2 linked regions of the Homo sapiens genome follow. The protein of the gene in region 2 interacts with the protein of the main gene of each other region in a pairwise test. Each region holds a gene or a part of one and is shown on either strand. Other genes may lie near its edges.

Region 1 (16,676 bases), on a different chromosome or scaffold from region 2:
TGTAGTTCTTACAGCTCCATTCTCAGATATTTCTACTCAGTTCAGATGAAAGTACAGTTCGTCTCTTGAAGAATAGTTCTCTCCAGGCTGAGTCTGATTTCCAAAGGAATGACCAGCAAATTTTCAAGATGCTTCCTCCAGAATCCCCAGGTTTAAACAATAGCATCTCCTGTCCCCACTGGTTTGATATAAATGATTCTAAAGTCCAGCCAATCAGGGAAAAGGATATTGAACAGCAATTTCAGGGTAAAGAAAGTGCCTACATGTTGTTTTATCGGAAATCCCAGTTGCAGAGACCCCCTGAAGGTATGGAAAGAAAAATGTTCCTATTTGTTTCAGTTAATGGCTTTAGAAGATAAACATGGAATGCTGTTTGAATTTTTATTCTTTTAAAAAAAGGTTTACTCTTGGAACATTTTTAAATATTTTAAAGCTAACAAGAACTATATTATGCCAAATGAAATCTAACAATTTGTCATTTTATAAAGATTATATACTTCTCTTTAATTTTCTACCCTGTAATAATGTAAGATCATCATTACATTTTCAAAATTGGATTTCCTTGGATAGCATAAAACCTTCTTGTGTTGGCAAACTTGAGTGCGATTGCCATATGCTCAGACTTGGCTCTGTCATTCAGCCATATGTTGCCTTTGAATTTTAAGTGGCCCTGGTCTTATTTTTATATCTTCTCCTTTATTTTCCTGATTCTTTTATATCTTCTCCTTTATTTTCTGCTTATTTATATCTTTTATTTCTATTATTTATCCTTTATTTATATCTTTTCATATCTTCTCCTTTATTTTCCTGTTTCTCAATAAGACTTTTTGTTTATTTATTCATTTATTTATTTTTAGAGATGCAGCCTCACTCTCTCGTCCAGGCTGGAGTGCAGTGGCATGATTGTTCACTGCAGCCTCTAATTCCTGGGCTCAAGTGATTCTCTTCCCTTAGTAGCTAGGCCTACAAGTACATGCTGCCACACCTGGCTAATTTTTTCATTTTTTTAGAGACAGGGTCTCGCTGTATTGCCCAGGTTGGTCTTGAACTCCTGGCCTCAGATGATGCTCACACCTCAGCCTCCCAAAATGCTGGTGTCATCGGTAGAGGGTCATGAGTGCAAGTTGTCCAGGTTCTTGGCATTTCGAACAAAGAATTAGACAAAACGCCCAGCAAAGCAAAGAATGAAGCAACAAAAGACCAAAAGCAGAGATGTATGGAAAACAAAAGTACACTCCACAGTGTGGAAGCAGCCTGAGCAGCAGCTCAAGGGCCCAGATACAGAATCTTCTCCGGTCCAAATATCCCCTAGAAGTTTCCCATTGGCCACTTCATGCTCACCTCATGTAAATGAATTGGGAGCCCGCCATCAGTCTGATTGGTTGCAGAAAGCAGCCAACCAGAGGCTGAAGTGAAGTTACAAAGGTCACTATCATGTGCAAACATCTGATTGGTTGCAGAAAGCAACCAATCAGAGGCTAGGTTGAAGTTACAACGTTACACTTATTTGCAAACGAAGACATAGCTGGCAATCAGTCTGATTGGCTGCAGGCAACACCCATTCAGAGGCTGGAGTGAAGTTGCAAAGATGCAAACGAAGACCCTACCAGCAATCAGTCTGATTTGTTGCTCAGTCTTATTTGTTGCCAACAGCAACCATTCAGAGGCTGAAATGGTTACAGAGTTGCAAACGAAGACTCCACCCACTGTCTGATTCGTTGGGGTCAGCCAATTTCCTATGTGTGCGCAGAAAAGGTCAAAGGAAGTAGCCTCTGGTCCTTGTGTTACTTAGGAATGGAAAGTTAGGGTGTTCCTTTCAATTTAGTTCTAGGAAGTCGGTGTGAAACAGCCTTAGGTTCCCTGTCTCCAGACCCTATTCTCCTGCCTCACTGGGATTACAGGCATGAGGCCTAGTAAGATTTTTCGATCACTTCTCAAAGTCCGCTCAAAAGTTAAAAACCCCAGTGAGAAAAGCTTTATAGATTGAGACATATCTATTATTAGAGATGAGAATATTGTTCTTAGAGAATGAGAATAACCATCATTTTTATGAAGAATAAGAATAAAGCAGTTACTAATTTGCATGTGAATCAAAGGAAATTAACTTTCCAGATCTAAAACAGTTACATAACTATGCTGTTAATGAAAAAGGCTTTGTATTTTTCTGGGAGGAAAAAAAGATATGGAAATGGTTCTGGTAAAAATATTGTGTATCAGAATTCACAGTTATAGAAATATATACTATCAGAAAAAGAATATCTTCAAATGGAGTATTAGTCTTTTTCACAGAATTGAATTTTAGTGTGTACGTAATTGGAATATGTAAATGACAGTTTTCTTGTTAGCTTAGGAATTGAACAAAGATCCAACAAAAAATCTAGGTGTACTTTTTTGGGAATGAAGGGATAGAATTTATAAAATGATTCTAAAATTCACCTGGAGAAATAAAGTAATAAAAACTGAAGAAGAGAAGACTGAGGGAGAATTTGCTGTATCAGTAAAAACATATTTATAAAGTTATAGCAATGAAGACAGTGTAGTGGTAATGCAAAAAGGTAGACAGATCATTGAAAAAGAGCAGTAAACCCAGGAGTTGATCTAAGCATATTTGTGTTTTAATCCGTGGTAAGGTAGCTCTTCAGATATTTTGGGGAAGGAAGGGAGTGAATTACTCAATAAATACAACTGGGAAGTTGGTTATTTGCTAGGGAAATAACTAAGCCATTTTTCTTTGTTATACAAATCACTTAAATGAAATTATAGTTCCTTTAATATTTATGTAAAAAAGGAATCGTAAAATGTGTAAAATATAAATATTTGATCTTAAGGTAAAGAAAACCTTTCTAAGCATAAAAGCAAAGAAAGAAAAAACTAGGGCAAAGTGATATAACCCTTAAAACAGAATTAAAAGGCAAATGACAAGCTAATGGAAAACAGTAAAATATATGACAAATTAATTTCCCCTATCTGTAGAGTGCGCTTACATATATTTCATTGTGCTCAGTAGTAAATTGGGGAAATGATATAAATAAGCAATTTACAAAAAGAAGATTCCTGTGTTTCAAAAAATTTTCAATTTAACCTGTAATCAAAAAGAAGAAGAAGAATGGCAATGAGATGAACATTAGTGAGATGCCCCACCAAATCAGATACTATTTCTGTGACTCTTGGGTTTCAACAGGTGACATTTCCTCCAGAGCTGGTAGGTATGGAATACAATCAGTTTGAGTATGTGTATTTAAAAGCCTTGAAACTGTCATACCGTTTAAACCAGTAATTCTACTTTCACAAGTTTGTCTTAAAGTAATCAGAGCTGTATATGAATGTTGATGCTCAAAGATGTTTATTGTTCCTACTATTTTAAAATAGTGATTAATTGGAAATCACCTTAATGTCTAACAGAAAAAGATTGGTTAGGTTAATTATGCTCCTTATAGAATGGACTACTATGTAATCATTTATTTAAGACTTTGGAAAATACAGTGTATGAAATGAAAATAGATTTGTTGAATATTATCCCAGTTTTTAAAATTGTGTGTGTTTGTGTGTGTGCCTGTGTGTGTGTGTGTGTGTGTGTGTCTTGGGAGTGAAATTATGAGCAGTATCTATTTCTTTTACACTTAAAAAAATTCCAGAATTTTTACAGTAGTCATTTATTGTATTTGTAATCAAGATGAAAATCTGAGGCCAGGCGTGGTGGCTTATGCCTTTAATCTCAGCACTTTGGGAGGCTGAGGCGGGCAGATCACTTGAGGCCAGGAGTTCAAAACCAGCCTGGGCAACATGGCGAAACCCTGTCTCTGCTAAAAATACAAAAATTAGCCAGGCGTGGTGGCAGGAGCCTGTAATCCCAGCTACTCAGAGGCTGAGGCACGAGAATTGCTTGAACCTGGGAGGCAGAGTGAGCTAAGATTGCGCCACTGCACTCCAGCCTGGGCGACAAAGTGAGACTCCGTCTCAAAAAAAAAAAGAAAAAGAAAAAGAAAAAAAAAAGATGAAAATCTGGGTGTTCTTTTTAAAAAGTATACTTAAAAGAGTTGAAAAAATGGAATTCTTCTAGCTTGTCTTAAAGAAATGTTTACTTTTCATTTGTTCTAACTTTTTCATTTTTCAGATGGGAAAACTGAGATCCTGAGAAAATTCGTATTCACACAGCTAATTAGTAGCAGCTTTCCTAGCTCCTAGGACAGTCCTTCCTAGTCTTCATGCTACCTCTTCCAGCAACCAGATTTCATTTAGCCAACACAAGTTAATGAAAAATTTTGTTCACAGCTCGAGCTAATCCAAGATATGGGGTTCCATGTCATTTACTGAATGAAATGGATGCAGCTAACATTGAACTGCAAACCAAAAGGTAATTTTAAATTGCTTTTAGAGTTTGACTAGTATTCCGGAGAATAAAGATCTGATTTAGGCCTTAAGCATTCAGTAATGAAAATTAAAAAGAAAAAAAATAGTCAACTTGTTAATGCAAGTGTCTGTTTGGCTGCTGAATTTTTATAGTGAGGGTAACTTTAACTCTGAAATTATCCCTTATGTGTGAGAGTGAATTAAATGGTGACATATAAAACAGCCATTGCTAAGTAGGGATCGAAGCCTAACAAGAGTAGAGAAATCAGTGAGCACATAGTTGGGCTGAATGAATTGTATCCTGGCCTGGCCAGATTATTTCCTTGGGTCCAAAGAGAGCCTGCCATGAAAATCACCCCTCATAGGTAAGTAGTTGTAGCGAACTGGCATGTAGTGAGAGAGGATCAGTGGTGGGCAGATTTTCAAAAGGAGGGAAATATGGATGCTATAACCTATTGAATGCAATGCTGATCTTGGGGGAAAGCCTATGATGGATTCTTACTTAAAGAGATGGTTTGTGAGAACTTTATGATCTCAGCATTCTCTTTTGGGGCCTCACCTTTGACTCTGAACTGCTTCTTTATTTGTGCTCTGTTAGGGTCAATAGGGTATTGGGTTAGGAAAATGGATGTTACCGTGATCTCCTTGTGGACCAAACTGCCTGATTATGTGACAGGGTGTATTTGACATTTTTATCATTGGCTTGGAGCTGGGGGAAAAAAGTACAGTGAATGACACGAGCAAAGAAACAACAAAAACCAAGATACCAAAAAGATTAAAACTTAACAGAGCGAAATATCTTAAGTCTAAAAAATAACCTGCATAAGTGGTCTGGACTAGCAGTTGTTATTTTAAAAAAATAAAAATAAAAAAATAAAAGGCAGAGCCTGAGGGGCTGTCATCAACCCGCACTAAGGTCTTTCGTGTGGTTGTGCTCTCTGACCATGTTCATTGAAGTGTCCTGAAGTACGTGAGTTGCGTGATAAGCCTCATTCCAGCTCCACATTGGTCAGACCCTACCTGTGTTTCGCACTGGCTTCGAGTCAGCCAAGTGGATTCAGAGAAGAGCAGCCAACACCAGGCTGCTGCCAAGGACTTTTAGCCTGGATAATGTGGTCTCGGGAGGTTCATGCTACTGGCTTCAAATATTTCATGGGGCCGGTCGCAGTGGCTCACGTCTGTAATCCCAGCAATTTAGGAGGCTGAGGCAAATGGATCACCTGAGATCAGGAGTTCAAGACCAGCCTGGTCAACATGGTGAAACCCCATCTCTACCAAAAATACAAAAATTAGCCAGGCATGGTGGCACACACATGTAATCCCAGCTACTCAGGAGGCTGAGGCAGAAGAATCGCTTGAACCTAGGAGGTAGAGGTTGTAGTGAGCCAAGATCGCAGCACTGCACTCCAGCCTTGGCGACAGAGTGAGACTCTGTCTCAAAAAAAAAAAAAAAATCATGGGAGAATGTGCAAAATCTAGTGGAAATAAGGATGATAGATGACATGGAAGTAAATCTGCTACTTAACATAATGATGTAAGCAGGTCTCTAGCATTTTGTTCATAACTATAATATAATCTCAGAATTAGAAGATTTCAAGTGTCAGCCTTTGTTCAGAGAAATGGAGTTAACATTGCAGCCTATGTTAAAACAGTTTTCTCTTGGAATTCATGGTGACAGAACTGAATTTTTGCTATTGACTGAAAAATTAAAGTGACTAATTGTGGCACATAGAAGAAAAATTGTTACTTTGGTGGGATGGAGAACTTTATTGTAAGCCAGATATCTTTGGTTTGAGATAAAACACAGTGTCTGTTATAAAAACACAGTATTTATGTATTTTTGTGCCTCTTTAAAGGGCAGAATGTGATTCTGCAAACAATACTTTTGAATTGCATCTTCACCTGGGCCCTCAGTATCATTTCTTCAATGGGGCTCTGCACCCAGTAGTCTCTCAAACAGAAAGCGTGTGGGATTTGACCTTTGATAAAAGAAAAACTTTAGGAGATCTCCGGCAGTCAATATTTCAGGTAATATCGCCTTACTTCCTCTTAATTCAGACATCGAGCACCATCTCCAGCTAGACTCTCCATTTCATTCTGTTTAGGATACAACTTTATTTTTCAAAGCTGCTTAGGAAGATCTGACATCTGCCACTTCATAGAGGGTTGACCCAAATCTTCTCTCCTAAGTCTTTTAGAGAGGCTTTTCTCCACAGCTCCTACCAGCAGCTTTTCAGGTAGACAATCAGGCCTGGTACATTTTATTTGAGGGGAAGAAAGAGTATAAAGTTGTCTCTTTTTTAGAAAATAAATGAAAGCAAATTGCCTTTCAAAGAGAGTGAAAAGATAAAGATGAGCATGTTGTGTAAAACTGAGAACTGCTGAACAAATAAACGCAACTAACTTTATACCCTGTAGTATAGAACAGTATTTATTAATAATATTCTTAAGTGAAGGAAAGTATCTGCTAGTCTAGAGTAAAAACAGTGCTGTAGTCTCCAAGTCATTTTTCTAGGTATGTTTTAATGATGATAGCAACAGCAGTGTTCTTTATTTTACTTACACTGCTTTCATATAAATCATGTGATTTGGTTCTTTAATCTCATGAAGACACATTAGCCCCATTTTGAAGTTGAGGCAGTGTGATTTAAAGAGACTCAATGTCTTGCCTGTGGTCCTAAATCTAGTTGATGGAGCTGGGACTCTGTCCCTCTTCTCCCTACTCTTCATCTAGGGTTTTTTTCTCCTAATCACCCTCCTGCTCCACACTACTTTCTGATCAAGGAAAAGGGAGATAGAAAATGTTAGCTTTTTTGTGTTTTTTCCCAGAAATTAGTTAAATGAATTTTCTGAAAAATCCTATTACCAAAACTATTAGCTTTCTTTCAATTTTCTTCTGCTAAGAAAAGCAAAGCAATTTCCCTTTTAACCTTAGTTGATTTGAAGTTTTTTAAATACTAGATCAGTGTCAGGATTTCTAAAGTTGTCTAATATTTCTGAACTTTTTCATTAGAAATTTATTTCTGAGCCAATTCTGGCACTGTTGATACAGGCAGATGTGGGAATCTGAACCTAGTCTAGGGGGATATTTTAAATGGAAAGGATCTTATTCACTTTGTAAGTGTGAGGTACACTCCAGTCTGTGTGTTTTGGTGTTTTAAGTGTATATGCCTACTAACTATTCTCTTAGAAGGAAGCCACTGACAAGAGGCTAGAAAACTTAATTCACAGCAAACTAATCACTTGTAAATAAGAAGTTTCTTTTTAAGAAAATACCTTATGGTATTGTAGAGAATGACTAGATAGGAATGACTTTTATGGTGATATTATTTTGGTGACCTTGCCACAGTGCTCAGACTCTCAGATCTAGAAACTTAAAGAGCAAAGCCATGGTAATCTATTAAGTAAACTGGTAATGCACCTTTATAAATTTGCAATGGGAGACATTCCTTTCAAGCAGCTAGAAGATGAGTGTGTGCTAGAGTCAGGGCTACATTTCCCTCAACATTGCTAATTCTGCAAATTAGTCTTGCTCTTTTGAGTAAAAATTCCTAGGCTGACATGCTCATCAACTTGCTTTCTGAGAAAAGTGCTCTTCATATATATTAAGCAGAATTGTTTAGATGGTTGTTGTGCCCTTTGTGTAGGCCAGAATTCTTCACTCAGGAATGGAGGAGATTAGCCGTCTTTGGCTTTGACTAATTTAACAAGTGATGCCTTCTTTTCAAGTTTTCGGTGTTGGGTGGGGGTGAGAGTATTCATTTGCTTGCTCTCTGTGTCATCTTCATATGTGAGTTGGCACAGTAACCTGGAAAGGTGATATGTATATGTCACTTTTCAACATTCTCTTTTCCTTCATTAATATTCTTCAGCTGTTAGAATTTTGGGAAGGAGACATGGTTCTTAGTGTTGCAAAGCTTGTACCAGCAGGACTTCACATTTACCAGTCACTTGGCGGTAAGATAAATATGAAAACATAGCAACTCACTCTATATATCTACATTTTTGTCCGGCTCACCTGCGATTTTCTACTCTTTGTCAGTCCTTCCCCACCTACTACTTTCTTAACTAAGTAGATTATCTTCACACTGTAAGTTTTCCAAAAGAAATAAAATATCCACGTTTTAATGTATCCAGTTTATATAATGTGTGAAATTCTTCTAACATGGAAACATTTTATTTTTTCTGAAATTAAGGCTACCTCTACTAAAATTTCTTGAAAAGCTTTAGAATTTTTTATATTGACACATATTGTTGAACAACATAGTTTCAAACCATCTGAATCATATTTATGTGACTTGATTTTCTGCCCAGTTCTCAGCTTCAGATTTTGTAGTAAAACAAGAAATACTTTGAGAGTTTGAAAGCATTTACTTCCTTTAAATAGCAGGAAAACAATGAGAATTAACAGTAGCGGCAGTAACATCTAATTTGGGCCAAAATCTGTAATAGGTGTTTTATGTTAATTATCTCACTTGATTTTCATAAAATTCTTTTATCTCCATTTCATAAATGAGAAAACTGAAGCTGAGAGACTTGAAGCACACAATACAGCTTGTGTTATGGACATATCGGTGGAGTTGGGACCATTCCATGCTTAAGCCTAACTCCTGTTTCCAATGTCATGTGCCTCAAGTACACTTGACCTTTGGATTATCTCTCTTGTCCTGCCACCATGCTCACAAGCTTTTGTCACAACGTTTTAAAGAAAAATTACAATGAAATAATGTCAATAGAATAAAAATAATTACTACTTTTTAAATTTTCCTTAGTGAAAATACTTTTTCAAACAAATATTTGTCTCAGCTCTTTCTTTAGCTCAGTTGTTTCTGATGGTCATGATGAATGGTCTCACTGGTGATCTCTTTCTAGGGGATGAACTGACACTGTGTGAAACTGAAATTGCTGATGGGGAAGACATCTTTGTGTGGAATGGGGTGGAGGTAAAAAAAATTACTGAAGAAATATTCGTGATAATTTTGGATGTTTTAAAAGTCATCGTAATGGCCGGGCATGGTGGCTCATGCCTGTAATCCCAGCACTTTGGGAGGGCGAGGCAGGCAGATCACCTGAGGTCAGGAATTCAAGACCAGCCTGGCCATCATAGTGAAGCCCCATCTCTATTAAAAATACAAAAATTAGCTAGGCATGGTAGCGTATGCCTGTAATCCCAGTGACTTGGGAGGCTGAGGCAGGCGAATCGCTTGAACCCGGAAAGTGGAGGTTGCTGTGAGCTGAGATTACACCACTGCACTCCAGCCTGGGTGACAGGGCAAGACTCCATCTCAAAAAAAAAGTCATTGTAATGAAATTTTATTCAGCCTATGTGAGGGCAATTAGATATTAGAAAACTACTGAAATGCTTGATAAATGTTAGGGACAATCAGTGCTAGTTGTACGCCAAGGAGACATTTCTTGAGCGCCTCCGTTATACCAGGTTGTGCGTCAGATGCTAGATCAAAGGCCAGTCAGTTGATCTGTGTCCTTTTAGGCCCTCGTCGTGTGAAGAACTGCACCATACGTGCTGGAGTAGGGGGTCTGTGCATAGTGCCTGTGGGAATTTAGAAGAGTGAGAATCTATACTGAGTTGGGGAGTGGGGGTGGTTTGGAGGTAGAGAGTGAATTTTCTATCTCTAGAAGGCGGCCAGGAGCACTTCAGCCACTCTGTGAACTGACCTTGGCCAATCTGGCTTCATCACCACCCATGATAACTCATAAATGTCTATCTCCAGTCTATCATAGATTTCTCCTAAAAAAATAAAAGATAAGAAAGTTTCAAAAGAAAAATCTGAAGTTGTTCCTCTGATGCTTAACAGACATTTGTGAAAATTTTATTTTACTTGGAAAAAATGAGGGTTGTTCTCTAAGAGTAATCTTTTACCATGTTATGTTGACGGTGTTGGCAAATATCAGCTGTACTAATGGTTGTCTTGGTATGATTGCAGGTTGGTGGAGTCCACATTCAAACTGGTATTGACTGCGAACCTCTACTTTTAAATGTTCTTCATCTAGACACAAGCAGTGATGGAGAAAAGTGTTGTCAGGTGATAGAATCTCCACATGTCTTTCCAGCTAATGCAGAAGTGGGCACTGTCCTCACAGCCTTAGCAATCCCAGCAGGTGTCATCTTCATCAACAGTGCTGGATGTCCAGGTGGGGAGGGTTGGACGGCCATCCCCAAGGAAGACATGAGGAAGACGTTCAGGGAGCAAGGGCTCAGAAATGGAAGCTCAATTTTAATTCAGGATTCTCATGATGATAACAGGTAACTCGCTAACAAGAGAAAAAGGATTTCTAAAAGTCATTTTAATTACAGTACCACCCAGCAGAACTCTAAAGCTTTATTTTAGTGACAAGAGTTGAATGTTTCTTTATTTCTAGACATTATGTTCTAAATATTGCATACAGGAATGTTTTAGGTTATGTAACTTAGAGAAAAACATGATTTTTTGTAAAGGGACTTTTTGGTAAATGTGGTGAGAAAATAATATAAGTATCCCTGATTTTCTAGACTGTATAGAGTATCAATTAGTTGGCTGTAATGCAAAAGTTATCAAGTGAATTCTGATTAGTGCCAGTTATAAAACCGAAGGAAATTCTCACAGAGAAAACTGAAAATTTTCCTGAAGAAGGTATTAACATTATGGCTAAATTGTTTCTGGATATTTTGTTTCAGGAGACCCATAAGACAACTCATTGTTTCCTTATAATCCGTTCTGTGACTCTTGAGAACCCAGTTGCCCAAATAGAGCAGTTACGTGGCGAATTACCCCCATGAATCCTGTGGTCACATTTAAAGCTGCATCTCTTTGTCATCTATGTCTGTGACAGTACATTGCTGTAGTCAATGTGTCATACACTGTAACTGCAATATTTCCATATATTGAAGACTTCAAGCTCCCTGTTTTCTCAGTGCTACAGATTTACTTAGATTGCAGGATGTCTGTATCATTATTTATAGTGGCTTTGATGCAGAGAAGCAGAGCACTTGTGGACCGTTTCTTTCGTAGTACACTTACCACTATTACTCTTTTGGACAGGGGTTTTGCAGACATTCCCTACCTTGTTTATAAGAACTGTATTTCCTTTATAAAAGGCAGTATGCATTTATTGGGACTGGGGAAATACAAAAGTGAAGACAGAAGGGACCCAAAACAGTATCCGTCTTCTCAGCATGCAGTGTTAATCACTGTTAGCATTTGGGTGCCTTTCTTTTTAAACCTAATAATGATTATTTTGTAGATAAGTAGTTGTATCCTGCTTTCCATTACCCCTGCCCAACCTTGAGATTTGTAGACTCTTTATAAACTGCCTTGAATGGCTACATAGTAATCTATGTGACATTATAGTTTGCCTAACTGTGCTCCTAGGCAAGTCAGTAGGCTGTAGTGGGACCTTGGGCAAGGTATTTCGTCTTTCTCTGCTCAGTCTTCTTGTCTGTCAAATAGGGATAATAACTAGTGCCAACTTCATAGACTTGAGAGGATTGAAAGAGTTGAGTGCTTACAAAGTACACACAGTAAGTGCTAAATGTTTTAGTTAATATATTACGGTCATTGTCATAATTATCATACAGTTTTTCACTATTTTAAAGTAGTCTTCATGGAGCATCTTGTGCTTCATACTTTGTTTTATTTGGGATTGCTAGCTTAAGGTAGGAGCTCAGAATGGAATAACTGCAATAAAGAGTAGAATGATGTTTCAGAGCTCTAATGTACATTCCCAAAGAGGACTTCGGCAAGCCCATTAATGCTTCTGTGTGAATTAGAAAGAAGGCACCTCTTCAGGACCCTTTACTACTATCTGTGGGAAAATGTTAGAACAAGATACTCTACTGCCGGCTGCAATTATAAAACAAAACTCTATGTAGAAATGCAGTATACAATATATATGCCATGTGTGACACTCCTTAGATGTGGCCCTTTTGTGCAGTGTCAGTCTACAGACTGCACATGGCTGCCCTGTTGTTAAATGAAATCTAGATCCAGTGGGGTAGGCTCCTGGCATAGGTGCTCTTTTAAAGCTCCCCTAGTGATTTGCAGGGTGCAGGCAGAAGCCAGCAACTGTTTACTTACAGAAGTTCTCTGTGAAAAATGTGGCAACAAATTATGTAGGTAAATCAAAGAATATTTGGAGTCATGAATATAGACTCTATAGACTACTGCCTAACATTACCCTGCAAAGGTAGCCCACTTATCATAGAGACGACTCAGTAGAACTTGGTCACCTCTAATTAGTCACATTAAGTGACACATGCAGAGTTTTGGAAGTGATGCCTAAGGAAAGGTATTAATTTCTGATCTTTTCTTTTTACCTACAGCTTGTTGACCAAGGAAGAGAAATGGGTCACTAGTATGAATGAGATTGACTGGCTCCACGTTAAAAATTTATGCCAGTTAGAATCTGAAGAGAAGCAAGTTAAAATATCAGCAACTGTTAACACAGTGAGTAGAATATAATTAAAGGTTGGCTGATAGATTTTCAGTTAACAGAATTTTATTTAGAAAACAATACCTTAATCTTTCAGAACAGTTGTCTCAATAGACTTCAGCTCTTAGGAAGTCAGCTTTTTATTTAACATTTGATTATTGCTTGTTTACCTATGTTAGCCCTTAGCATATTTCAAGAAAATACGTGCCTTTTAAAATTTCCTCCAAAGCCTAGAATTAGAATGTGGGAGTTACTCATTTAGTTAGTTCATGGAATTCTCTGGCTCCCACAAAATGAAATTCTTTGGCTTCCTTGAAAATGCTGTTTTCAAGGGTCTTTTCTGTATTTTTTTTAAGCCAAGTATACATATGTTTTGGTTTTGTGTTGTGGACTTCTGTTTTTTAAATTTATCTTAAATTGTTTTACATTATACTCTGTTTTTCTGTAAAGCCAGGTGTTCTTAAAAGGAACTCTTTCAGTTCTCCATTTGAAGACTAGTTTCGTTAAACACCATCTCAGGAAATACCTTTTTATATTTATGTAGTCTCAATTCATTATGGGTTTTTTTTCTATAACAAGTTGAAACTTACTAGAATGTTGTTTTCTTTTATATAAATATTATAATTTCTTAAAGTGTGTTAATATTTACACTGTATGATGAATACACTAAAGTTCAGAAGATCTAGTACCTTGACCCTAAGTGAGAGACTTTGGTGAAGTCCTTTATGACTCACTCTGTTTCTTCTTTTCACAATGTGGGGTGCTGTGGGAGGACAGATTGTCTGACATCGGTTTTACTCCTAAATTTACAAGATTTTGTATCCTAGAGGAAATTAGGTTAAACTGAAAAAGGGAAAGAATCTAAAATAAAGTCATTTAAACAGAAATTTTAAATAGTGCACTCGGGCTGATAGTATACATTTTTATTTATGCTTACTGGCCCCACATTCATCATTCCTGACATAGAGAAATGTGATTGCCTGCAGTTTATTTTGTTTGCTTTCATGAGAAAAGTTACTGGTTTGTCAGCTTATTGCCTTTCAGCTAGTTTCTTTAGTTTCTGTAGTTTTCTACAGTTTCTGTAGTTTTCTGTAGGTGTCCTTTCTGTTCCAATTAACATCAATTTGGTAAAAACTTAACTATGAAGTCCTAAGTTTTTGCTTTTGATCTTATAAAAGGATTTCAGGGATGGAAAAATTTCCAGTGGGCAAAAACTACTAAATGTCAGGTAATTAATATCTCAAATAATTTGTTTATGCACACAGTGACAATCCTCATTTTCATCTCCTCCCATTTTTTACAACTTAGTCATTATTTTATTTCTCTGTTTTAGATGGTGTTTGATATTCGAATTAAAGCCATAAAGGAATTAAAATTAATGAAGGAACTAGGTAATCATTTACATTTTCTTTTCGGTTCTTAGTTTAGCTTAATTTTGGTCTTGAATTGAAGAAAATATAGGAGAATACAAAAAACAGTTTAGGGAGAACTCACATACCTACCACCCAAAATGGACAAATATTAACATTTTGTCATATGTTTGTTTTTGTTTGAAACATTATAAATGAAGTTAAAGTCCCCTGTGTTCTCCTCCTCAGACCTATTCTTTCTCTCCTTCCCCAGATACAATGAGTATATCTGATGTGGGTGTGTATCTAGTCCATGTATTCATGTTGTACTATACTGAATGTATATTCTGCAAACTCACTATTCACTTACCATTAGGCTTTCTGTGACAGCCTTATTAAGATATAATCTACATACCATAAAATTCACTCAGTTTAAGTGTTTAATTCAGTAATCATCAGTAAATGTGTAGAGTTCTATAACCATCACCACAATCCAGTTTTAGAATACTTCCATTACTCCAAAAATATCCCTGTACCCATCTGTATTCCAAGCCCCTGGCAACCACTAATCTGCTTTCTGTCTCTATAGACTTTATTTTCTTAATGTTTAATGTAATTGGAATCATAAAACATATAGTCTTTTGTGTCTGGCTTCTTTCACATAGCATATCATTTTTGAGGTTAGTCCATGATTTAGTACGTATCAATAGCTTGTTCCTTTGCATTGCTGACTAGTCTAGTATTCCATTATATGGATAGTATCACATTTTGTTTATCCTGGACAAACATGAATTGATAGACATTTGGATTGTCTCTACTTTTGTGCTTTTATGAATAATGCCACTATGAACTTTTACACATAAGTCTTGGTGAGGAGATATGTTTTCATTTCTCTTGGGTACATGTACCGGATTGGAATTGCTGGGTCATTTGCAAATTTATGTTTAACTTTATAAGAAACTCTCGCACTATTATCCAAAGTGACTGAACCATTTATACTCCCACTAGCAGTGTGTCAGGGTTGCAGTTTCTACATGTCCTTGTCAATCTGTGATTAATTGTGATTATCTTTTTTTTTTTTTTTTTTTTGAGACAGAGTCTCACTCTGTCAGCCAGGCTGGAGTGCAGTGACACGATCTCCGCTCACTGCAACCTCCGTCTCCCAGGCTCAAGCAATTTTTCTGCCTCAGCCTCCCAAGTAGCTGGGATTACAGGCGTGTGCCACCACGCCCAGCTAATTTTTGTGTTTTTAGTAGAGACAGGGTTTCACCATGTTGGCCAGGCTGGTCTCAAACTCCTGACCTCAGGTAATCTGCCCACCTCGGCCTCCCAAAGTGCTGGGATTACAGGCATGAGACACTGAGCCCAGCCATCTTTTTTTTTTTTTTTTTTTTTTTTTTTTTTAGAATCTGTTACTGGTTTGGTTTTGACTTTTAAAAAAAAAAACATATTTTGAGCACATTTTTTATTGTTATTTTTTCCATAGGTTATTGGGGTACAGGTGGTGTTTGGTTACATGAGTAAATTCTTTAGTGGTGCTTTGTGAGATTTTGGTGCACCTATCACACGAGCAGTATACACTACACCCTATTTGTAGTCTTTTATCCCTCATCCCCCTCCCACCCTTCCCCCCAAGTCCCCAAAGTCCACTATATCATTCTTGTGCCTTTGTGTCCTCATAGCTTAGCTCCCACGTATCAGTGAGAACATACGGTGTTTGGTTTTCCATTCCTGAGTTACTTCACTTATAATAATAGTTTCCAATCTCATCTAGGTCACGGCAAATGCCATTAATTCATTCCTTTTTATGGCTGAGTGGTATTCCATCATACACACACACACACACACACACACACACACACACACACACACACCACAGTTTCTTTATCCACTCATTGATTGATGGGCATTTGGGTTGGTTCCATGATTTTGCAATTGCAAACTGTGCTGCTATAAACATGCATGTGCAGGCCGGGCACAGTGGCTCACGCCTGTAATCCCAGCACTTTGGGAGGCCGAGGCGGGGAGACCACAAGGTCAGGAGATCAAGACCATCCTGGCTAACATGGTGAAACCCTGTCTCTACTGAAAAATACAACAAAAATTAGCCAGGCGTGGTGGTGTGCGCCTGTAGTTCCAGCTACTGGGGAGGCTGAGGCTGGAGAATGGCGTGAACCCGGGAGGCAGAGCTTGTAGTGAGCCGAGATCGCGCCACTGCTCTCCAGCCTGGGTGACAGAGCGAGACTCCGTCTCAAAAAAAAAAAAAAAACAAAAAACCATGCATGTGCAAGTATCTTTTTTGTATAATGACTTCTTTTCTTCTGGGTAGATACCCAGTAGTGGGATTGCTGGATCAAATGGTAGTTCTACTTTTAGTTCTTTAAGGAATCTCCACACTGTTTTCCATAGTGGCTGTACTAGTTTATGTTCCCACCAGCAGTGTTGAAGTGTTCCCTAATCACCATATCCACACCAACATGGCCATTCTACTGAATGTGAATTAGTATCTTAATGCATGTAAATTTAGCAAGAACTCAAAATCATATA
Region 2 (16,613 bases):
CGTGACCGGGAGGGTCTCTCCTTAGAGGCTAAGGAGGTTGCCAAGACGCTGAGCTGTGCTTCAGGGAAAACCAGAAACCACATTCCTCATGCTGTCAGTAAACCAGCTTCCTCCCTTTCATAATACAGAGAACATTTTGAGACTTTAGTAATAACGACCACCCCAAGAAAGAAAAGAAACTTTTTGGGGGATGTGTACCCCTTTAAATGACCGGGCCAGCAAAGCACTGAAATACAGCAGCAGTCACATCTTATTCCCACGTGAGCTAAGTCATCTGCCTGCTATGTGGACTCTACACTGAGTGTTGCCACCAAGTAGCAGTAAATTAGCCTAACAATGCCATACACCGGACACCACAGCGCATACTCTACAGTCAACAATGTAGGCCAGGCGCGGTGGCTCACACCTGTAATCCCAGCACTTTGGTGGGAGGCCGAGGTGGGCAGATCACGAGGTCAGGAGTTCAAGACCAGCCTGGACAACATGGTGAAACCCCGTCTCTACTAAAAATACAAAAGTTAGCCGGGCATGGTGGCACACGTCTGTAATCCCAGCTACTCGGGAGGCTGAGGCAGGAGAATTGCTTGAACCCGGGAGGTGGAGGTTGCAGTGAGCTGAAATTACACCATTGCACTCCAGGATGGGCAACAAGAGCAAGATTCTGTCTCAAAAAAAAAAAAAAAAAATGTATAGCCTATCACTAAATCAATGTCATTTCTCTAAACCAGTGAGAATTCCTAACAAACACCGTTTGTAATCACTCCTCTCCTGATTTGTCCTTTTTTCTTTAAAAACTTGAACTTCTCCTATGCTCTCCAAAGTACTTCCCAGTGTTTCCCAGGGCTACAGTCCTCAACCTTGGCCCCAGTACACTCTCTACATTCATTTTGCTACAGTTTCTTTTTTTAGGTTGACAATCCTCAAGGCTGACCTTCTGACAGGGTACGATTCAAGGTCACTGGGAAGGAAGCCCAAACCATCTCCCTTAGAAATCCATCCTGAAGTTTCTGTTGTCAGAGAGACATTCTCTCAGTTCAAAGCTTTTCCTTGTTAGGAATCTGCAGTCAGAATGCAAACACCCCGGAGTAGTTAGCGCTCATGGAGGATCAGTACTTCAAGCTATGTCACTTTATCACACTGTTGAACTCAGTTTCACAAACAGGTAGTGGGAGGGGCAGGGAGAGATGAGCATCGTCAGCCGCTGCGGTGGTTTGGAGCACAGTTTCTGGAGCCCAGGAGTGTGGGCTCGAAGCCTGGCTCTGCTGGGCTGTGTGGCCTTGGGCAACTCCCTGAGCTTCTCAGTTCCTTCACCTTTAGAATGGGGATAATGGGCCTGGCCTGGTGGTCCATGCCTATAATCCCAGCACTTTGGGAGGCCGAGGCAGGAGGATGGCTTGAGCCCAGGAGTTTGAGACCAGCCTGGGCAACATAGTGAGACCTCGTCTCTACGAAAAAATTTAAAAACAAGGCAGGAGTATCTCTTGAGCCCAGGAGGCTGCAATGAGCCGTGATTGTGCCACTGTACTCCTGCCTGGGTGATAGAGCCAGACCCTGCCTCAAAAAAAAAATTTTTTTTTGAGGATAATGATACCACCACAGGAATAAATGAGTTCACTGGTATAGAACACTTAGGACCATGCCTGGTCTGTAGTAGGTGTTACAAATGGGTTAATTAATCCATTAATTACAAATGAATATCAGTGAGGACCCGGAGAGCACAGAGGGGTGTCAGTTGCTCTAGGATACTCAACTAGTTGCTGGTGGAGCCACTCCACAAAAATGTGTCTTTATTTTCCAAAGCACTTCGGCATCTTTTTATTGAGGTGGGGAACTTTATTCAACAATCCTTTGTTTTTTTTTTGAGACAGAATCTCACTCTGGCTGGAGTCACGCAGGCTGGAGCGCAGTGGCACTATCTCTGCTCACTGCAAACTCTACCTCCCAGGCTCAGGCGATCCTCCCACCTCAGCCTCTAGAGCAGCTGGGACTATAGGCACGGTCCCCATGCCCAGCTAATTTTTGTACACTTTGTAGAGACCAAGTTTCGCCATGTTGCCCAGGCTGGTCCCAAACTTGTGGGCTCAAGCAATCCGCTTGCCTCGGCCTCCCAAACTGATGGGATTATAGGCCAGAGCCACTGCACCTGGCCCTCAATTCTTATGTAGTTGTAAAATACCTTGTTGTACCTTTTTCTTTTCCTAATCCATTTTATTTTTTTTTCTTTCAGACCAACAGTCTTTTCTTCCTGGCAGAAAGTCCTTGGTGCACATCTGATAGATGTCAGTGTTTGCCCTCTACATAGGAGAAAAGCAGGGCTGAGTGCAGTGGCTCAGGCCTACAATCCAAGCACTTTGGGAGGCTGAGGCAGAAGGCACACTTGAGCCCAGTAGCCCAAGACCAGCCTGGGTATAGTGAGACCCCGTCTCTTCAAAATATTTAAAAATTAGCCAAGGGTGGTGCTACATGCCTGTAGTCCCAGCTACTCGGGAGGCTGAGGTGGGAGGATTGCTGGAGCCCCGGACTTCAAGGCCGCGGTGAGCTATGATCCCACCATTGCACTCTGGCCTGGCCAACAGAGTAAGACCCTGTCTCAAAATTAAAAAAAAAAAAAAAGGAAAAAGAAAGAAAAAGAAGAGAAAAGGCCAGTGAGGCCACTGCCACACAACCACTGAGGGGCAGGCAGCTGGCTCCATACTGCCAGACGCCCTCCTCCCCGGACCGCGCAGCCTCTGTAGCCTTCGCCTGCCCCCGCATTTCTCCTTGGCTCCTACCTCCCCTCTCGGCTGCACTTAATGATTTCCCGGATTCTTACAGACCATTGGGATCGCTTCCTTCAGAGTGTTTTGGGAAGCCCAGCACGCCCCAGCTTTCTCCCCAAGGGGCAGGCTGCTCTCAGGAGCGGGAAGCCCATCCCCACCTTCATCCCTCTGGCCCAGAGGAGGCTTCCTTCCCTGGAGGGCTGAGGCAGCAGGCAGCTGGGTCAGCCCATGCCTCTCGCATGTGGCCATCTGAATCATTTCCTTTCGCAATGTGTTACTCAGTTTCAGGGCCTGCCACGTGGGGGTGTTTCCATTCCTTTCTGCAGCTGGACTTGGTGGACGTGGGGAACGTGGCAGTTGTGCCTTTCTCTGGACAGCGGAGGACCTCCCTGGACCCCAAACACCTAAGTCCTCATCACCTCCGTTTCTTTTCTATAAAATGGAGGTGATGACACTTGATTTGTCTAACACTTTCTTAGTTGTAAGACAAACAAGATGACCCAAGCGAAGGGGCTGAGTAGACTCCAAAGCAGTGCCTCTCAGTTGAGGGCTGGGAGTGGATTCTGCCCTCTCGGGGACATCGGTTGTCACTCCTGGGGGAGGGAGCTACTGCGTCTAGAAGGTAGAGCCAGGGACGCGGCTAAACATCTTATAACACACAAGACAGCCCCTACAACGAAGCGTTAGCCAGTGCCAAATGGAAATCACGCGGAGGTGGAGAAACCAGCCTAAAGAATGATTGAAAAGTAGTAACATTTACGATGGCCGGGCGCGGTGGCTCACACCTGTAACCCCAGCACTTTGGGAGGCCGAGGCGGGCGGATCACCTGAGGTCAGGAGTTCTAGACCAGCCTGGCCAACATGGTGAAACCCCATCTCTACTAAAAATACAAAAATTAGCCGGGTGTGGTGGTGCATGCCTGTAATCCCAGCTACTTGGGAGGCTGAGGTGGGAGGATCGCTTGAGCCCAGAAGGTGGAGGTTGCAGTGAACCTTGATCGCACCACTGTACTTCAGCCTGGGTGACAGAGCAAGACTCTGTGTCAAAAAAAAAAAAAAAAAAAAGCGAGAGAGAGAGAAAGAAAAGTAGTAACATTTACGGGGAACTCACTCTGTGCCAGGTACTTTACATGCATTATCTCATTTAATTGCTCCAGCACCCTATGAGGCGGTATGGTTATTACTCCCATTTTACAAATGAGAAAACTGAGGCACTGAAGAGTTAAAGAACTTACCCAAGTCCCACAGCTAGAATAGGATGGAGCAGGAATGAATCCTGGGGGCTTCTACTTCCCAGGCCCACTCTTTTTTTTTTTTTTTTTTTGAGATGAAGTTTCGCTCTTGTTGACCAGGCTGGAGTGCAATGGCGTGATCTCAGCTCATTGCAGCCTCTGTTTCCCAGGTTCAAGTGATTCTCCTGCCTCAGCCTCCTGAGTAGCTGGGATTACAGGCACCTGCCACCACGCCTGGCTAATTTTTGTATTTTTAGTAGAGATGGGGTTTCACCATGTTGGCCAGGCTGGTCTCGAACTGCTGACCTCAGGTGATCCACCCACCTCAGCCTCCCAAGACCCACTCTTAATCTATGTGCTACAGAGCATGTTTCCAGTCTGCCTATGGTGAGGGTCTCACATCCATGCCTGAACAAATGCTGTTTTGCAAAAATGTGCACTATCCTTCCTCCACTCCAAATATAAGCAGATGCTATTGTGATGAATAAATGCAAATTCTTATAAAGTGTTAATAAGTCAGTGTTACTTTTCTGACATTATGCATTTTCCTCAATCAAGGGAATCTAGAAAGTAAACTGCAATTACGTTGCAGGAGTCCATGAAAATCTTTCCTCTCTAAAACAAGGGAGCCTCAGGATCTAAAAGGCAGGAAACCTACGTGACAGATCTGAACTAAATTCAAATCAAGCAACGCCTTTTCTGAGTTTATCTTGCTTTCATGCAGCTCAGCTATGTTACTTGCTGAAAAAATTAACTGCCCTGAAGCCAAAAGCAAAACGAAAGCAGAGCGAAACATCTCACCAACCATAGAAGGATTTTGCAGCTAACATGTTTGGTTCAAGTTGGGACAAATGAATCCTTTGGGTCTCTTCCATTCAGTTACAGATCCTGCTGTTAAAGGCTGTTCCAGTAGAATGATTTCCACAGAGCACTTGTCTCTAAACCTCTCTCCTCCCTATAAAAGACCACCTGCTGGACAAGACTTTCCCCCTCTCCCCACCATAATCCCTCCCAACACAGAGTTCCCTCTGCAACACCAGGAGCCCCCCAGCGACTCTCCAGGAAGGCTGCACAGGCCCTGGCAGCCAAGCCTGCTCTTGGCCCCTTTCCCTGAGCAACACACTCACCCCTTCCTTCATGCTCTGATCCTGTTGCTCCATGCTTGCTCTGGAAGGGCAGAGTGCCGCTCACCTCCTTTTAGCCAAAGTAACGCGTGCACTGAATGGAGAGAGAAGACATTCTGGGTGCACTTTGGCCATGCCAAATAACAGCCAATAGCATTTTTATAGCCAGATTAAGTCAGAATAACCCTTTCAGGAACCTGGTCTTCCTTTCACTTCTGCTTTTAAATGAAACGTCTGGGGTTTGGCTAAGTAAGTGGGTGCCCCCTGGGGACTGCAGGCCCAGCATTGTCCTGATGGAACAGTCTACGGTATTTCCCCATTGCTAAAGTCTCTACCAGTCAGGCTCATGGTGAATGACTGGAAGGGTTATTTCTGTCAGGAACGCATGGCAAACAACAGCTGTCCTCCACCCTACATGACACCAGGTAATCTGAGGGCAACAGATTGGGCCACTAGAGACCTCAAAGATGCTCTCCCTGCCAGGAAAACTACAGTCAAGTGTCTCTTGGTGGAGAGTCAGTTTTGCCCAAGTCACCGTGTAATACTGTTTGGGGAAAGTTTCTCATTTTCTGTTTTTTTTTTTTTTTTTTTTTTTTTTTGAGACGGAGTTTCGCTCTTGTCCCAGGCTGGAGTGCAGTGGCATGATCTCAGCTCACTACAACCTCCGCCTCCCGAGTTCAAGCGATTCTCCTGCTTCCACCTCCTGAGTAGCTGGGATTACAGGCGTGCACTACCACGCTCGGCTAATTTTTATATTTTTAGTAGACACGGGGTTTTGCCATGTTGGCCAGGCTGGTCTCGAACTCCTGACCTCAAGTGATCCACCCTCCTTGGCCTCCCAAAGTGCTGGGATTACAGGCGTGAGCCATCGTGTCCGGCCTCTTATTTTCCATTTTAAGGAGCTCAGAATGACCTAGGGATGTTACTTTCTGTGTATTCATCACTACTGGGAAGGTGGTAAATACCTCGAACCCCTTTCCAGGCAGGGCAGGGAAAATGAGTCACACCTGCTGGTCCGGGTCCGGCCATCTCAAGGCCAGGCCACTGTCAGCCCCCCATGTTTGGCACTCATTCAGCTGCCACAGGGCACACCAGCGCAAGTGGCCAAAATCCAAAGTCTCACAAGTCCCACAGGTTTTCATCTTTACAGAACATACTCCCAGTTCTATTTGCTGTGGCGTAAATCCAGTTACTTTAGTGATTGATTCTGAATCTCATGCATCTTTAAACAAGCAGAGACTGGGAGCCTGTGTTAGGCACTGTTCCTTGCATTAGCAGCAAATCCCCAGGGTTGCTCAGGGTGGGAGACTGTGAGAAGCCTAGCAGCGTGGCCGTCTGTGTGTGTGTGTGTGTTGGGGGGTCGGGGGGGTCCCTATTCACAAGGGAGAACTCAGCATTCCCTTTCACCAGCTACTGCCTGTCTTTTTCTTCTGCGTATCACTGTCCTAGCACACTGACTTGTGACTAACGCATAGCAAGACCAGAGGTTTCCAATTATTTCAAAGATCTAGAAAAAGTTTCCAAAGAAAATGCACTTTAATTGCAGGGGTAGGGTGGGGAGAGGAAATCAACGATGGGGGAGTGAGGAGACGGGTACAGGTGTGCAATCCAACACAAAGAAGAATCCGGCCGGGCGCGGTGGCTCACGCCTGTAATCCCAGCACCTGGGGAAGCCAAGGTGGGTGGATCACCTGAGGTCAGGAGTTCGAGACCAGTCTGACCAACATGGTGAAACCCTGTCTTTACCGAAAATACAAAAATTAGCCAGGCATGGTGGCAGACGCCTGTAATCCCAGCTACTTGGGAGGCTGAGGCAGGAGAATAGCTGGAACCCGGGAGGCGGAGGTTGCAGCGCACCTAGATCACACCACTGCACTCCAGCCTGGGCGACAGAGCGAGACTCATCTCCGTCCCCCATCCTCCCCCCAAAAATAATCGTCCAAAGTTTGTAGTCATCAGTCATGTCAAGTGCATGACACCTGCTTCTATCTAGGCCCAGATCTTCCACTTCTCCCTGCCTTTGGGCGAGGGGGTAACTAAAACCGGGGGTCGCTGGGGGGGACGCGGACACTCCCAGTCCCCGCCTTGACGGCCCAGCCCGGGGAAGCGGGGACAGTGAGCCAGGCCCTCAGGCCCAGAGGGGATCATCCCGGGAGCTGCGGGCCGCAGTACCCGGTTCCTGCCAGTGACAGGGCGTCGCAAGCACAGCCATGGCGTCACCAACGCTCGACCCGTGCTTCCGCCCTGGAGGGAGCCGAGCGCGGGGACGGGGGCGTGGCGGGAGGCCGTCATGACGCCAGGCTGCGGGCCGCTCAGCCAGTCCCTCTGCCTGGCGGGCCTGCGGGCTCCGGGTGGGTCCTGTCCCTGCCCAGGACCCCTCTGCCTCAGCCCGGATCCCCCTCGGCCTCTGCCTCAGCCCGGGTCCCCCTCGGCCTCTGCCTCAGCCCGGGTCCCCCTCAGCCTCGGTCCCCCTCTGCCTCAGCCCAGATCCCCCCCAGCCTCAGCCCGGGTTCCCCTCCGCCTTTGCCCGAGTCCCCCTCAGCCTCACCCGGGTCCCCTTCAGCTTCTGCCAGAGTCCCCCTCAGCCTCGCCCGGGTCCTGCTTCTGGCCAGGGACCCCCCAACCTTCGTGGCGGGCGGACCAGCCTCCAGGCCCCTGCCTCAGGCCGCCATGAGGCCGAGGCCTGCAGGCTCCGCGAGCAGGGCGGGGTGGGAGACTGTGAGAAGCCTAGTGGCTCAAAGATGGAGGAGGGGGATGGCAGCGGTGAGGTGGGACTGGGGGGAGGGGAGTGGTCCTGGCAAACCTGAGGCAAGAGGATCGCTTGAGCCCAGGAATTCGATCATGCCACTGCACTCCAGCCTAGGTGACAGAGCAAGACCCTGTCCCTAGAAATAAAAAAAATTAAAAATTAAAGTTCCATCTGGATGTCCAGAGGTGAACTGATGAGGGGACAAGAGACCGCTGGATTTGGAAGTGGGGAGAAGGAGCAGTGGAAGGTCTTTGCCGTAGCCCAGGTGAAAGAACAATGTGACTTGGACCAGCATGGGGATGGAGAAGACAGAAGTAGATACACTTGAGGGATATTTAGGATGGAAAATTGACAATCACTTGGTGATAGGATGGGGGAGAGGAAATAGGAGCGTTTCTGTTACTGTTATAATAAAACACAACTAGGCCAGGCGTGGTAGCCTGTAAACCCAGCACTTTGGGAGGCTGGGGCAAGTGGATCACTTGAGGTCAGAAGTTCGAGACCAGCCTGGCCAACATGGTGAAACCCCGTTTCTACTAAAAATGCCAAAAAAAAAAAAAAAATTAGCCGGTCGTGGTGGTGTGCGCCTGTAATTCCAACTACTTGGGAGGCTGAAGTAGGAGAATCGCTTGAACCCAAGAGGCGGAAGTTGCAGTGAGCTGAGATCGCACTACTACACTTCAGCCTGGGTGACAGAGCGAGACTCTTGTCTCCAAAAAAAAAAAGTAAAACAGAAATAAAAGTTACTTTTCTGAATCAGAATGAAAAGCAAATGTTTTATATAAGAAAAATTTAACCAGGGCAAAATATTGGGTTAACACCATACCACAAAGCAAGCTGGCACATCTCCGGGCTGTTCTGTGACCAGACAATGATACCAGGACTTCAGTCACTACTGGCCTCACCTCTGCTAGGAATGTTCTAGAATTTTAAAGTTTTGCCACGGGCCTCTTTTGTACAGGCTGCTAATGGCTTCTCCTCCCCATCCATAAATCCATTTGGTCAGTGCCTCTTCTGTAGTAATAGAATTGGGAACAAGACCTGCGGCTGCCCAAAATAAAGACATTTCCCCATTGCTCTTGCAGTCAGTACAGACATAAAGTTCCGCTTAATGCAGTGTATGCAAGATGCCATATGGCAGGCAGCTTCCAGAAACTTTGCTCTCTTAGCTTTGCCTATTTCTCCATCCTGCTTCCTGGAATGTAGATGCCACCAGCTTGGGCCTTGAGATTGAAGCCCCACAGGACAGAGCACCAAGCTAGGAGGAGCTGGGGCCCCTTACCCTGTGGAGCACCATCCCAGCTCCCCACCACCAACTTGACTTAGTAGGGAAGAAAAATACTTCATTTTGTTTTCTGTCACTTGCAGCTGAAACCGTTTCTCACTGGTAGAACTATTAAATGGATGCCTGAAAATCTGTTAGGACAGAAAACAGGAAGATATTCTACCAAAGCCCCTGGTGGTGCAAATGGTGGAGTCTCTTCTGCCTCACTCAGTACATGCTTCTGTACTGTGAGTTAGTTAGTTCATTTGCAGATGGTAAACAAGAGAATGCTGGCCGGGCGCGGTGGCTCACGCCTGTAATCCCAGCACTTTGGGAGGCCAAGGCAGGCGGATTACAGGAATTCAAGACCAGACTGGCCAACATGGTGAAACCCGGTCTCTATTAAAAATACAAGAATTAGCCAGGCTTGGTGGCGGGAGCCCGTAACCCCACCTACTCAGGAGGCTAAGGCGGGAGAATCGCTTGAACCCAGGTAGTGGAGGTTGCAGTGGGCTGAGATCAAACCACTGCACTTCAGCCTGGGTGACAGCGCAAAACTCCATCTCCAAAAATTAAAAAAAAAAAAATACGTCAGTAGAATGCAGAAATTGTGTTTGTGTTCTTAGCAGCATGTTCATATAATAGTTTGAGGTGGTGGTGGAGCGGAGGGGGGCAAGCATTCTCTCAATGAAAGAGCAAGGCTTAGCAACTGTAAACCAAAAAGTATCTGAGACAGGTCTCAATCAATTTAGAAGTCTATTTTGCCAAGGTTAAGGACATGCCCAGAAGAAAAAAGCAGAATCTCAGAAATAGTCTGTGGTCTGTGCCTTTCTCCAAAGATGATTTTGAGGGCGTCGATATTTAAAGAAAAGCTGGCTGGAGGGGAAAGAGGGAGAGTATGGTAACCTACATGTTACAAGAGAAAAGGTACAAGTAGAGGAATCAGCAATTACATGTCTGTCTCTTGCTCAGTAAATCAGCACTTTACATAAAGTGAGGTGAACACAGAGTAGCTACTTGTGGGGATACTTAACCTTTTATCTGTCGCTGTCTGCTTAGGAACATAAGGAAAGACAGCTCCTTGCATGACTCAGCTTTCAGCTTAATTTTGTTTTTCCTTTTTGGCAGAGTGAATTGGGGTCCTGAGTTTTTTATTTTCCTTTACACAACATATGAAGACCTTAAAGAGAAAACGCTGAAAATTCTGCAGGGCTCTGGGCTGGTTTTGTGATTTCAAGAAGCGCTTTCTCCTGTAATCCCAGCATTTTGGGAGGCTGAGGCAGGAGGATCGCTTGAGCCCAGGAGTTCGAGACCAGCCTGGGCAACACAGTGAGACCTTATCTCTACAAATAATCAAAAATTATCTGGGTGTGGTGGTGTGCACCTATAGTCCCAGCTACTTGAGAGGCTGAGGCAGAAGAATTGCTTGAGCCAGGAACTTCAGGCTGCAGTGAGATGTGACTGAGCCACAGAACTCGGCTTGAGCAACAGAGTGAGATCCCATCTCAAAAAACAAAACAAAAAAAAAAAGAAGTGCTTTCCAAGCTTTCTGTGGAGTCCTAATTAGGGAAAAGGAGTCAGGTTGGCAGCACCAGGGGAAAGCAAAAGAGAAAGCAAATAAGCTATAAATCTGCCTCTCTTCATGGTCCACAACAGATAAACAAAGAGGAAGCAGATGAGTTATAGGTCTGTCTGTGTTTATGTCCCAGGAAGTGTAGCCCTCCTGAGCAAATAACACACATAACTCACAGACTTCCCGTTTCACATCAAACACCTCAATTTATCAAACATCCCGGTTGACAGAAGAAGGCAGGTTAGCTCCTGCAGCCGTGGCGTAATCCAACATCCCAAGAGCCATCCTATAAAATCTCCAGCAAGCCTGTTTCCTTGCAGTCCGCTCCTCTTCTGCTGATACCGCCCGTTGCCTCCTTGCAACATATTTTCCTACTTTCTCTAATAAATCTATCTTTCTCTACCTACAACTGTCTTGGTAAATTCTTTTACTCCCGTGCCACTGGCCCAGACAGTTGTCACTCCCCTGTGACCCTTTCAATAATCTTAAACTAAATGGTGGAGTTAGCAGGACAGTTGAAGATATTTTCATATGTAATTTGTTTGTTTTAATTGATTATAGCCTGCATTGGATTTTCAATTTTTTTTTTTTGAGACGAAGTCTCACTCTTGTCCCCCAGGCTGGAGTGCAATGGCATGATCTCAACTCACTGTAACCTCGGCCTCCCAAGTTCAAGTGATTCTCCTGCCTCAACCTCCCAAGTAGTTGGGATTACAGGCACCTGCCACCATGCCCAGCTAATTTTTGTATTTTTAGTAGAAACGGGGTTTCACCATGTTGGTCAAGCTGGTCTCGAACTCCTGACCTGAGGTGATCCACCCACCTCGGCCTCCCAAAGTGCTGGGATTACAGGCGTGAGCCACCGCGCCCGGCATTTTTTTTTTTTTGAGACGGAGTCTCACAGTGTTGCCCAGGCTGGGGTGCAGTGGCACAATCTCAGCTCACTGCAACCTCCACCTCCCAGATTCAAGCGATTCTCTTGCCTCAGCCTCCCGAGTAACTGGAATTACAGACGCACGCCACTACGCCTGGCTAATTTTTGTATTTTTAGTAGAGGCGGGGTTTCGCCATGTTGGCCAGGCTGTTCTAGAACTCCTGACCTCAAATGATCTGACCGCCTCGGCCTCCCAAAGTGCTGGGATTACAGGCGTGAGCCACTGCACCTGGCCGGATTTTCAATTTTGATGAAACAGCTCTACTAGGAGTGAAAGGCCCAAAGACCCTAATCTGAGAAGAGAAAGCAGAAGTTCCCCCAGGCGATGGAGATCTGCCCTAGCTGCTGTGCTTATCAAGACTGCATTTATACTTGTTTGTGTTCAGATTGTAAAACCGCATAGGATTCAAGTGGTCCTTGCCAGTCATTTCTCCCCTTAAGCCCTGTTATTTTGATGTGCCACTTGGCAGAATGTCATGTTCTTTAGGAACAGGTATATCACATGATAGCAGAAATGCCTATATGTGCCTTTGATGCACAAAACGGGGTTGCTATCAAGGTGGTGTCTATATTTGGCTTGCTTGATTGATGGGGAGAGGAAATGGCTCTTGGCCACACCCATTTATTAATCTAAAGGAAAAAACTGAGGTGAAATCCATACAAGTAGAGAGTTTATTTGGGCCAAGTTTGAGGACTGCAACCCAGGAGCATAGATTCAAGTTGCCCTGAATTTATGTTCCTATCAGCAATAGTTACAAGTGTGGTGTTTTTTTTGTTTTTTTTTTTGAGATGCAGTCTCACTCTTGTTGCCCAGACTGGAATGCAGTGGCGTGATCTCGGCTCACTGCAACCTCCGTCTCCCGGGTTCAAGCGATTCTTCTGCCTCAGCCTCCCTAGTAGCTGGGATTACAGGCGCCTGCCACCACGCATGGCTAATTTTGTATTTTTAGTAGAGATAGGGTTTCACCATGTTGGCCAGGCTGGTCTCGAACTCCTGACCTCGTGATCCGCTCGCCTCAGCCTCCCAAAGTGCTGGGATTATAGGCATGAGCCACCATGCCAAGCCTTACAAGTGGGTTTTTAAAAGAAAAAAGGAAGGCTGGACATGGTGGCCCATGCCTATAATCCCAGCACTTTGGGAGGCTGAGGCAGGCAGATCGCTTGAGCTCAGGAGTTCAAGACTAGTCTGGCCAAAATGGTAAGATACCGTCTCTACAAAAATACAAAAATTAGCCAGGCATGGTGCTGCATGCCTGTAGTCCCAGCCACTTGGGAGGCTAGAGTGGAAGGATTGCTTGAGCCTGGGAGGTGGAGGTTGCAGTGAACTGAGATAGCGCCACTGCACTCCTGCCTGGGCAACAGAGTCAAAACCTGTCTCAAAAAAAAAAAAAGCAAAAAAAAAAGAACACAAAAAAACAAAAAAAAAACCCCCAGAAAAGTCTGGACGCAGTGGCTCACGCCTGTAATCCCAGCACTTTGGGAGGCTGAGGCAGGTGGATCGCCTGAGGTCAGGAGTTCAAGACCAGCCTGGCCAACATAGTGAAACCCCATCTCCACTAAAAATACAAAAAAAAAAAGAAAAAAATTAGCTGGGCTTGGTGGCAGGCACCTGTAATTCCAGCTACTCGGGAGGCTGAGGCGGGAGAATCATTTGAACCTGGTTGCAGTGAGCCGAGATCATTCCATTGCACTCCAGCCTGGGCAACAAGGGTGAAACAGGGAGAGAGGGAGGGAGGGAGAGAGGGAGGGAGGGAGGGAAAGAAGGGGAAGAAGGAAGGAAGGAAGGAAGGACAGGAGGGAGGGAGGGGCAATGGGAGTGTTGGTCCTGATCCAGACCCCAAGAGAAGGTTCTTGGACTTTGTGTGAGAAAGAATTCAGGGTGAGTCCATAGAGTAAGGTGAAAGCAAGTTTATTAAGAAAGTAAAGAAATAAAAAAAAGGCTACTCCACAGGCAGAGCAGTGGCCTGGGCTGCTCAACTGATTATATTTATAATTAGTTCTTGTTCTTTGCTAAACAAGGGGAGGATTATCCACTAGTTTTCTGGGAAAGGGGTGGACAGTTCCCCGGAGCTGAGGGCTCCTCCCGCTTTTAGGCCATATAGGGTAACTTCCTGAGGTTGCCATGGCATTTGTAAATTGTCATGGCACTGGTGGGAATGTCTCTTAGCATGCTAATGTATTATAATTAGCATATAATGACAGTGAGGACAACCAGAGGTCACTTCCATCACCATCTTGGTTTCGGTGGGTTTTTGTGGCTTCTTTACCACATCCTTTCATCAGCAAGGTTTTTGTGACCTTGTGCTGACTTCTTATTTCATCCTGTGACTAAGAATGCCTAAACCTCCTGGGAATGCAGCCCAGTAGGTCTCAGCCTCACTTTACTCGGTCCCTATTCAAGATGGAGTCGCTCTGGTTCCAATGCCTCTGACAGGAGGCGGGAAAGGGAGAGAAGACTTTGTATTGGGTACAGTGTACAGCGCTTGGGTGATGGGTGCACCCAAATCCCAGAAATTACCACTAACGAATTTATCCATGTAACCAAGAACCACTTGTATCCCCAAAAACTATTGAAAAACATTTCATTTAAAGAAGAGACAGTTCTTTACCAAGAATTTACATCAAAACCATGTAAACTGTAGATCCACACTACATTGTTCTTTGTACCATGAATTCCAAAACCCTGAAGAAAATGGGTGAGGCAGCTATCAGGAACAAAGTGTCGTCAAATAGCTGCCCTGGACATGGGTGGGGAAGTGACTCAAGTTCCCACTCACGTCTCTCTGGGCCTAATAAATTTTGCGAACCTCACAGGGCTCACACTGCTCAGCTGTTTTTCTTTTCCCACATTCCAGATTTAGATAAGGAAGGAATCATTAACAGATTCAGAGTGGACCTGACCACCCCACAGTGCCCTTGCTTTGCTTTTGGCACAGGCAGTGTATCTCGTCTGGGGAAGGGAGAGGAGTGCATCCAGTCGGTTGACACAGGACCTCCCAACCCCAGTGCCCACGCGCGGTGTCTCCCTCTTCCTCTTCTGTGAAAAGCCACACCCCACCTTGGGCATGCCACCTGGCCGCCGGAACCCAAGTCTGCAGGGAGGGTCCAGAAAACGTGCGCCTTCCAAGTTTATCTTCCTTCAGGAGCCAGTTCTGTATTCTGTCCTCACTTGAGCTCCCTTCCAAGCTCCTACTAGATGTCCCCGAGGCAGAGAGATTGTTGATCACGCTCTGATATGCCTGGGGTGTAAACTTCAGAGACATGACAAGGTGCCTATGTGTTTTCTCACCAAGAACAGAATTTGACCTCGCCTATCAGAGAGTGCACGTGCACAGGAAGGGCGTGCTCCTGGAGAAGCACAGGCAGAAGACGTGAAAGCCGGAGCAGCAGAGGCTCTTCAGGACCCAAGGGGCTTCTGTCGGTTACACATTACCCTGGATAGACACTCCTCTTTTTATTTTTGATTTATTTCTTTATTTTGTTGAGACAGAGTCTCATTCTGTCACCCAGGCTGGAGTACAGTGGCGTGATCTTGGCTCCCTGCAACATTTGCCTCCTAGGCTCAAGTGATTCTCCTGCCTCAGCCTCCCAAATAGCTGGGATTACAGACGTGAGCCACCATGCTTAGCTAATTTTTTGAATTTTTAGTAGAGACGGGGTTTCACCATGTTGGCCAGGCTGATCTCAAACTCCCGACCTCAGGTGATCTGCCCACCTTGGCCTCCCAAAGTGCTGGGATTACAGGCGTGAGCCACCACGCCCAGCCGATATCCCTCTTTTTAAAAACATCATAACATAAAACTTATCATTTTAACTGTACATTTTTAAATAAATGTACCAGTTGAGTTGTGGTAAGTATATTCACATTGTTATGAAACAGATCTCCAGAACCTTTTCATCTTGCAAAACTGAAACTCCGTCCCCATTAAACAACTACTCCCCATTTTCCCTCCCCAAAGTCCCTGGCAACCACCATTCTACTTTTCTGCTTCTACGAATTTGGGCACTCACAATACCTCATGTAAGTAGGATCATGCAGTATTTGCTTTTTTGTAACTGATTTCCGAAGACTTAGAGCATGTCTTCATGAGTCCTTCATGCTGTAACATGGAACAAGATTGCCTTGCTCTCTGAGGCTGGATCATACTCCACTGTGCACACACCACATCTGGTTTACCCATTTATCTGTCAGGTTACTTGGGTTGCTTCTATTAATACCTTTGGCAATTGTGAGAAATGCAGCTATGCGCATGGGTGTACAAGTATCTCGCTGAGCCCCCGTTTTCAATTATTTTGGATATATACCCAGAAGTGGGATCACTGGATCACATGATAATTCTATTTTTAATTTTTTTTAGGAATTACCGTTCTGTTTTCCACAGTAGCTACGCCATTTTACGTTCTCACCAACAGTATATAAGAGTTTCAATTTCTCCACATCCTCACCAGCACTTGTTATTTTCTGGGCTGTGGTTGCTGTTATCGTTGTTTTTGGTAGTAGCCATCCTAACAGGTGTGAGGTGAGCTCTCATTGTGGTTTTGATTTGCATTTCCCTAATGATGAGTGACGTTGAGCATCTTTTCACATTCGTGTTGGCCGTCTGTACATCTTTGGAGAAATGTCTATTCAAGTTCTTTCCTAATGAGACCACTCTCTTTGACCACAGAAAATGAGACCAGGCAGGCCATAAATAATATCCAGTGATGTGCAGGAGCCAGCTTATATATAATGTGAAAACAAATAATTCAAAATCAAAGCTGTTGGAAACTGGAATTATTTTGAGTCTTAAAGGAATGTGCTTATGGGACCTTTAATCCCTCTCGCCTGGGGCGATAGGTGTGAGTCACTCCGCCTGGCCTTGAATAAACTCCTTTAAACTGGATTCTGATCCTTTCAATTATTTCAGGTTGCCAATAACCTCATCAAAATGAAAAAGTGGTGGGTGAGGTTGCTCACGCCTGCAAACTCAGCACCTCA

What was found.
Region 1: the proteins of SLC2A5 (region 2) and USP40 interact in a two-hybrid assay, tested with the Homo sapiens proteins (one study listed by BioGRID).

Annotation. Positions count from the first base shown.
Region 1 is NC_000002.12:233,517,109-233,533,784, reverse strand, and holds part of USP40 (ubiquitin carboxyl-terminal hydrolase 40), read left to right. Parts: intron 1-5; coding exon 6-306; intron 307-4,272; coding exon 4,273-4,354; intron 4,355-6,206; coding exon 6,207-6,378; intron 6,379-8,222; coding exon 8,223-8,307; intron 8,308-9,222; coding exon 9,223-9,293; intron 9,294-10,295; coding exon 10,296-10,615; intron 10,616-12,670; coding exon 12,671-12,794; intron 12,795-14,113; coding exon 14,114-14,171; intron 14,172-16,676. UniProt on the Homo sapiens protein: May be catalytically inactive.
Region 2 is NC_000001.11:9,064,386-9,080,998, forward strand, and holds the start of SLC2A5 (solute carrier family 2, facilitated glucose transporter member 5), read right to left. Parts: upstream 5,251-16,613; 5' UTR 5,152-5,250; coding exon 5,119-5,151; intron 1-5,118. UniProt on the Homo sapiens protein: Functions as a fructose transporter that has only low activity with other monosaccharides. Can mediate the uptake of 2-deoxyglucose, but with low efficiency. Essential for fructose uptake in the small intestine.